2 linked regions of the Homo sapiens genome follow. The protein of the gene in region 1 interacts with the protein of each later gene in a pairwise test. Each region holds a gene or a part of one and is shown on either strand. Other genes may lie near its edges.

Evidence for each region. The genes of interacting proteins can lie anywhere in the genome.
Region 2: the proteins of CSN3 (region 1) and ZNF76 interact in binary tests that used the Homo sapiens proteins (3 or more experiments, as listed by UniProt).

Annotation. Positions count from the first base shown.
Region 1 is NC_000004.12:70,247,663-70,253,106, forward strand, and holds the end of CSN3 (kappa-casein precursor), read left to right. Parts: intron 1-155; coding exon 156-188; intron 189-1,335; coding exon 1,336-1,797; 3' UTR 1,798-1,831; intron 1,832-3,599; 3' UTR 3,600-3,770; downstream 3,771-5,444. UniProt on the Homo sapiens protein: Kappa-casein stabilizes micelle formation, preventing casein precipitation in milk.
Region 2 is NC_000006.12:35,280,235-35,283,734, forward strand, and holds part of ZNF76 (zinc finger protein 76), read left to right. Parts: intron 1-821; 5' UTR 822-917; coding exon 918-990; intron 991-3,500. UniProt on the Homo sapiens protein: May be involved in transcriptional regulation.

The DNA of each region.
Region 1 (5,444 bases):
CCATAGGCCTCATAGATCACTCATGAAAAATGTTTTAAAAAATAAAAAGAAAACATATTTTGTCTTTAACACAAAAGATTTTTTTAACTGATTTAAGTACTTTTTTTTTCTTTTTTAACTTATTTCTCATTATTTCTTCTTCTGGAACTCCCCAGGCTGTGGAGGTTCAAAACCAGAAACAACCAGCAGTAAGTCTATTTTAATTACTTCTGTTACAGGCATGAACTACAAAATATATTCTGCAAAGGTCAATTGTATTATAGATGCCTTCTGTCTAAAACCTAAATATTTCATTTCCATAAAACAATCTAATAATATTTGCAAGAAAATAATTTCAGCAACAGGTGATATGAATCAACATTGATGTTCATCTGAAAGTTTTATTTTCTTATATAACCCAAATCATGTATCTTTGGTTTTCATGTATATTTAGCAATATGAGAAAACTCTTTCAACATTTCATATTGGAAAAAAATGAAAACATAAGTAAAGCTTAATATTTCCCCTTTCCACTTTTTAAGACAAGGGAAGATCCTTTTCTGACCCATCTTTGAATACTTCTCATACATCTATATTTACTTCCCCTTTCGTTTCCCAAATATGTTTGAATACATTTAAATGTGTCTCGTTTTAGGAGAAATGTTTGCTTTGTAGTATAATTTTGTCAATTTATTTCTATTCATATGGAAAGGTCTACTGACAAATTTTTAAACAGAGGCACATAGATATAGACAATTCTTTATCTAATCTTTTGTGAAGAAAATTAAACCAAAAAAAATCCAAAATCTAAATCCAGGAATCTCTCCACATCACATTATGTTACTATTCTGCTATAGTTTAGGAAAAAATAAATGTGCTCTTGGGCTAATTTTTAAATGAATAAAATTTGAGACCAATTACAAATATGTGGTGAGAATACATACGTGTGTGTGCGCCATTCTGTGTGTGTCTGCATGTTGTGCTTGTGTATAACATGTCAAAGTTCTCAATGAGATTTTTCTCTGTGTTGTACCTACAATAGCTAACATATAAGATCACTTTCCATATATGCCAATCTCTGGGCAATATGGTTTACATTATGAATAAACTCATCTAATTTCTTGAAACAAATATTATATTAATATTATCAAAATAATATTTATAATATTGAAAATCATAAAGTGGAAAGGCAATGTACAAATCAACATCTTATAAAATAATATTGCTGCTGGGTTCCATACTTCTAATATCTTACTCAATGGTAAATACTATATTATTTCAAAAAATGCAGATTTAAGGTATTTCCACATTTGGGTCTATAATAATAATATTCTGTATAATTTATTTTTTTTGCAGTGCCATGAGAATGATGAAAGACCATTCTATCAGAAAACAGCTCCATATGTCCCAATGTATTATGTGCCAAATAGCTATCCTTATTATGGAACCAATTTGTACCAACGTAGACCAGCTATAGCAATTAATAATCCATATGTGCCTCGCACATATTATGCAAACCCAGCTGTAGTTAGGCCACATGCCCAAATTCCTCAGCGGCAATACCTGCCAAATAGCCACCCACCCACTGTGGTACGTCGCCCAAACCTGCATCCATCATTTATTGCCATCCCCCCAAAGAAAATTCAGGATAAAATAATCATCCCTACCATCAATACCATTGCTACTGTTGAACCTACACCAGCTCCTGCCACTGAACCAACGGTGGACAGTGTAGTCACTCCAGAAGCTTTTTCAGAGTCCATCATCACGAGCACCCCTGAGACAACCACAGTTGCAGTTACTCCACCTACGGCATAAAAACACCAAGGAAATATCAAAGAACACAACGCAGGTAAATTAACAGTATATAAAATGAGTAATTCCGACAAGAAGCATGGATTTATGAATACAACCATAAATTCTAAAATAGTACAAATAGATAAACTAAGTGTGTTACAGAAGCAGACAAAACAGGGTACTTACAGTTTTACCTTGGTAAACCCATAGCATTGATACACCAGATTCTGTTCCAACTAGAAATTTAAAATAATTTTATTTGACAAAGTGAAAATAATTGGCAACTTCATTATCAAACTTTTTTCTGACAATTGGGACACTCTTAGAATGTAATAGTTTTATTTCATCCTTATTCACACACAAACTATGACAGTAGAGTAAAACAGCAAGTAACATTTTCATGATATTTCAAAAATAATTTTTAGAAGAAGTTATATAGAATATGAGTTTGAGTAAATTTTAATTCTGTAACAATTCTCTTGCACTCTCATTGTAGTATGAACAGAGTAAAAGGAAATGATATGCTTCCATGCATTTCTTTATTTCAGACATCATTTCCAAAATGATTCATGAAGTTAAGCCTCTCAAATTTCTCCTATTCTAAGATAAACCCATGGAAGAATTATAATGCTTAACTTGAAAAACACATAAATATTAAAAGGATACTTTCAGAACACAATGTGATGCAAAGTGTTACTATTTATTACTTGGACCAATGGATAATGGCAGAATATAAAATAATTTGAAACTTATGAGAAGAATTTAAACAAAGAGAATGATTAATAAAGTGGAAAATATCCAAAGAGTGTAAAATAATTTGGGGAGAAAGTTGCAAAATGTGGAGTTTCTTTACAACAAATATTTTCAGTCCATCAGATGTCTACATGTTTTATGATCTAAAATACCAGACAATGGTCTGTGATATCATGGGACTACCATTAGCCCAGAAAAGGTTGCTTCTTTCATCTGCTTGCCTAATGACCATAGGCTGGTCATTACTTTCTCTGAACTTTTATTTTCTCATAATTCTGGTTGCTATAAGACTCAAGAGAGAATGCACATGGGAAAGGATTTTAAAAACTGATCAATCTGTAAAATGTCATGTATTGGAAAAGATAAAGTAAAATTCATACCAGTATCCTAAGTCTCCACTAAATGATAAAAACCGTACATAATTATGTCTGTTGATTCCCATAGTAACCATATGAAACAGATATTATTCCTATCTCAAATTTAGGGATAAAAACCAGTAGGACTGAGGACATTAAGTAAATTATCACAGCTAGAAATTGCAAATGGGAGGCAAACCAAACCTGTTTAATTTCAGATAGTGGGGTTTAATTACTATGTCATTTATTTTTATATGGGCTGTCTAACTTGCTGAAAAACAGGGAAAATACACTGTGATTTCCTTAGACTAGCATATGGGTAAATTGTGTTGTTTAGTTGCTGTTCAACAGGATATCCATTAAGAAAAAGAGAACAAGAGCTGGTTAAACAGCTGGCTTATTATATTTTGGAGAACAAAATAAGAAAATTAATAAAGACAACATGAAAGCAAGTTATTTAATAAGTAGTTACATATTTTACTGATGCAAAACATAAAGAAGCATGTAAAAGAGTTTTTTCTGTAAATATTACATAATGTCTATTATTTTCAGTTTACTATATGCCTATTTTAAATATTTAAGTTTAAATATGTAATCTGATTGACTTATTGGATACAGACATGAAAGAAAAATTGTGGAAGCTAAATAAATATATATCATGAGAACTGTTAACATACTATGAATAAATTTCTAAACTATCATTATTTTTTATAGGACTTGCTGAAACCAAATTACTACTTCACACTCTCCTTCAGCCATTTGTCTGCCTTCAGTCAACAGAAAATGTGATTTTCACAGATTCAGCTCTTCTCTCCTTACATTTTACATTCATGCCACATTCAATATTTTGATTCTTGCACAATAAAGCCAACTGATTGCAACTGATTCTTTGAGAGGAGTTTGCAAAGGTACCTCAGGGATCTCTGAAACTTTGAAACGCTATGACAAATTTAGTGTGAGTTAGAGTACACAAATTTACCTAAAGGCAGTGCTCATAGTTTCATCAGGTTCTCAAAGTGGTTCATGGTCTGACACTAAGAATTTCTCCTCTAGGATGACACTGGGACCAGAGAAAAGCCAAGCCATAGTGTTCCAATCCAGGGGACCACAGAGTGACTCTTGAGAGCCATGGGAACTCTAGAGTTAGCATTAAATTTAAGTGACCAAATGTATTGCTAACGTTAGTCTAGATTATTCCTGAGAGCAAATTCTGGGCACAGGCAAACTACAAATGTCCAGAACTACAAACACAGATACGTTGCAAAATTATAGATGTTGACAGAGACTCTAAACATGCATGACCAGATTTCCCCACACTGGACTCCACAGTCTCACATCTGTTCAAACACACACACACACCCCCACACCCACCCACCCACCCACACACACACACACACATCACACACCAGAAAGCTTCTGGAATTCAGGTATTCCAGTTTGGAAAAACTCGTGAATATTCAAGGTCCAAGGATAGGACATAGTTGTTTTCTTAAACAAATATTGCAAGGAAAATCAGGTCACCTTTGTGCTTGGTCCATATTTAACACATCATGCCAGAAAAAATAAAATTCACTCAGCCCTTACAAAATGTTTACTGGTCACCTATCTAATCTTCTGCTGTGACTCCCAACAGATGTGCTATTATTAGGATTGATTTACAGTGTTTTACCTGCTCTCTCACTCAAATAGAGAGTCTTGAACAGAGACATGGAAGGAATATGGCATGGCTAGACCTTATTTGCTATGATCATTAATGATATTATTAATTTCTTAAAAAACAAAGTAAATATGTGGAAAAGGCAAAATTTATATCATTAATTTAAAATCTTACCACCTATTATACACAAGGTATTATAAGAATTATTGTGATAATACAAACAATATTAATGGCTGATAACAATAAGCAACAAGCAGTTATAAAGTACATACTATTTGCCAGTCAATCTTCTATTTGTTTATATGTATTTACTCATTTAATATGTAGTCATGAACTACATATATTTATTCTTGTTGTTATTATAAGTGAAAGAGAAATGAAGTAATTTTCCCCACGTGAAGCTGAGATTTGAACTCAAAGTCTTGCTTTAAAGTCCATGCTCTTTAAAAACTGACACATGGACCAATGGAACAGCATAAAGAACCCATAAATAAAACTGAATGTATTCAGTCAACTAATTTTCAGCAAGGGTACAAAGAAGACACAACAGCAAAATTATAGTCTTTTTAACAAATGGTGCTGGGAAAACTGGATATCACAGAAAAAGAATGATATTGGACCCATATCTTACACCATACACAAAAATCCACTCAAAATGGGTAAAAGCTCAATGTAAGACCTGAAACTTTAAAATTACTAGAAGAATACCTAGGGAGAAAGCTCCTTGACATTGGCCTTGGCAAAAATTGTTTCGGATATCACACTAAAAGCTCTGGCTACAAAATCAAAAATAAGTAAATGTTCTCCCTCATAGGTGGGAATTGAACAATGAGAACACACGGACACAGGAAGGGGAACATCACACACCGGGGCCTGTTGTGGGGTGGGGGGAGGGGGGAGGG
Region 2 (3,500 bases), on another chromosome or scaffold:
ATGTTAGAACATGAGTTGGAAGAGGCTGAGGCAGGAAGATCACTTGAGCCCAGGAGTTCGAGGTTACAGTGAACTGTGATGGAGCCACTGCACTCCAGCTGGGCGACAGAGTGATACTTTGTCTCTAAAAAAGGAAAGAAAAGAAAATGAATTGGAAACAGACAAAAGTTTATCTGAGGACATAAGTTATAAGGCTCCTTATAGTTGTCCAGAGGTGAAAGGTGAGACATGCCTGAAATAAGTACCTGGACTTTTAAGGGAAAAGGAGGACTCAAGCATGATCCCCCCCCCCCCCGCCCTGAAGTTCTGGGTGGAAGGCGATACCACCCCTGGGATAGGGGATACTGGAAGTACAATAGTTCTGGAAGGTTGGGACACATTGTGAGTTCTGTTGAGGACTTATTCCACGTGTGGTACATGTGGGATGTTCCCTGAGGATGGTTAACAAGCTCAGTAGATAAATGGGTCCGAGCACAGGAGAGATGTTGGAGTAGGCAGAGAGAACCATCAGCAGTGGGGTTAACTGCCTGCCTTCAGCAGGGCTCCTTCCTAAGGGGAGAAAGTTTAGAAATGGGTTTTGATCAGTGATTTCTTACTTTATGACCAGTTTGATTGGCATGCTTCTCTTCTATGCTTAACTTTTAGAATTCTTAGATAATGTGTATTTTGAGCCCTTTTCATAAAAACCAATATAGTTCACTACTTTGAAGAATTCATCTTTTTTCTTCTTGGCTGGCTGGCCTCATTAACTCCTTCCCTGAGTGTCTTTGCGATAGGAGAAAGCTGGTTAACTCATAATGTGATACTGTTTATTTTCTTAGATTTGTGACCCAGAAGGAAATCTCTGACCTCAGCTGTGGCTCTTGGTGCTGGCCAGAAGCCAACTTCATGTCTGAGTGCACGAGCAGCAGTTTGCCATGGAGAGCTTGGGGCTGCACACGGTGACCCTTAGTGATGGGACAACAGCCTACGTCCAGCAAGCTGTCAAAGGTAAGTATTTCTGGGGACCTCAGGATCCTGCCCTGTCCCTCAGCCTCTGGAAAGGAGTGTCCATTTCTAAGAGTCCCACCATCACCTTGCCCTCCCGCCTGCTTACCCTTGCCCACCACCACAATTTGCTCTGCATTAGAATCTCCTGTGGTGCTTGATGAAAAGGGAACTCTAAAATAAAATGCTACAAGTCAGACAATCCCAGTCATAGGAACCAATACCTCTCAAAGACAGAATTCCTAATATGTAATAAGCAGTTGATAAATATTTCTGGAATGAACACAGTGTTAGTTATGACTCCCTGCTTTTCAGATATCCCCTGTCACAGTTTTTTAGTGCTTTCTAGAAGCAGTTTATCATCTTAATTCAAGTATATTCAAACATTCAAACTACTAAGCATCTGCCATGTACAAGATGCTCTTTTAAGCCAGGCATAGTGGCTCATGTCTATAATCCCAGCACTCAGAAGGCTGAGATGGAAAGATCACTTGAGGCCGGGAGTTGGAGACCAGCCTGGGCAACATAGCAAGACTCTTGTCTCTAAAAAAAATAATAAAAATAATAATCTGGGTGCAGCAGCATGCACCTTTAGTCCCAGCTATTCAGGAGGCTGAGGCAGAAGGATCACTGAAACCCAGGAGTTTGAGGGTTCAGTGAACTATCACTGCACCACTGCACACCAGCCTGGGTGACAGAGCAAGATCCCATCTCTTAAAAAAAAAAAAAAAAAAAGATACTCTTCCTGATTCAGAGAGGAACACCCAAGCAGAGATCTCATGCCCTAATCCCCACTAGGGGATGCCAGAATTGAAAATATAGGACATGTAGTTAAATTTGAATTGGACGTAACAATGAATACTCTTGTAGGATACATACATCCCAAATGTTGTAGGGACGTATGTATACCACATACTAGGGACATACATATACCCCTTATAAGGGATAGACATATATAAATGTGGGATTAAGCTGGGCTTGGTGGCATGCACCTGTAGTCTCAGCTACTTGGGAGGTTCAGATGGGAGGATCTCTTGAGGCCATAAGTTTGAGGTCAGCCTAGACAACAGCAAGACCCCATCTAAAAAAAAAGTAGGGGGTGTTAAATACTATAAAATACTAAAATAATAATACCAAGTTCTAAAAAAAAAAAAAAAAGTATTGTTTATCTGAAATTCAGATTTACCTGGGCATCCTGTATTTTATCTGGCAATTCTATCCTTACACTGAAGGTACTTAAAATCAAGGTAGGTGTGGAGTCAGAATAAAGTGTTTAGGGCAAGGCCTGCAGGCCAGGGACACTTTTCCTTTCTTGCCAGTGTTCTCAGGCAGCCAGATAGCATTCGTGTCTTCCTTGGACAGCACCTTGAACAAGGCAAATACTGCCTTGTTCCTACTGTTCATTTGGCGTTTTCTGGACTCCATGATTGTCACTGTCCTCCTGAAGCACTGTCATTGCAACATTGCCCTCCTTTATTTCAACACACTCTCAGAATATATTTCTGCTCCTAAGTTTACAGATAAGTTGTTTATTGATTTCATTTTAAGTTGTCTGTTTCCTGATGATGACTAAGGAGTCCCCTTAATCTCATCAGTAAGCACTTTCCATATGACAGTGTGTGGGGGTCCCTTCTGGAAAGGTTTCTTGTCAAGAGCTGTCTGTGACATGTGGGTTCTTGTTGGCTTCATCTTCTTGAGAACGCAACTTCTCTAGAATGCTTTTGAAGCCTGAAACTCTCTGTTTGCAGACTTCCCACTCCAGGTCTTGCCCCTCCAGTGCAGTCTCCATGGGATGGAAGAACTTAGAACTCTAGCTAGGGTTGTGTTTACTCCTTGGACCCAGTTAGTTCCCGTGCCTCAGTCTTCCACTGAGAATTAATGGTCAAACAAATGAATAAAAAGCAAGTGACCACACCTGACCTGAGAGAGCCACTCTTTCCTTATATCTATCCTTCTTACGTATTTCTTTATTCTGTCAGTCTTCCTGGCTGTTCTTTGCCCACTCTGTAGTGTTGCAGTGTGCACTTACACACACACATATGCAAACACACACTCACTCACAACAGATTTTCCCTCTGCTCAGGGTAGAGCTCTCCTTCAGAGACCAGAACCACACTTTCCTGAAAGGCTTCTCTGACTTCTCCTCTGAAGCTTTTGACTGAGGCATTTTTGTCTCTGTCTGCTGGAAGCCCTAAAATTGTAAGAGACTTATCTTTAATTAGGATGAGTATAAAATGTATTATTCAAACCCAGCATTTTAAAAGTGGAAGAATGTGCTATTAATAAATGCACTAGGACTGTTCCAGGCAAACTGGGGCGTATGGTCACCTCTCTGTAATGGGATATGAGGCCCTTGTCAGTCAGCTGTTCTCCCCACTGCCTCTCTCCATTGTAGTCTCTGGTTGTTTGAGGAAATAGTAGGCTAAGTTTTTTCTTCAGACAACTCTTCTCAACATTTTGTTTTCTACCTTGAAGCAGTACCCACTCTGCTGGCCGTAGCTTGCTGATGCTTT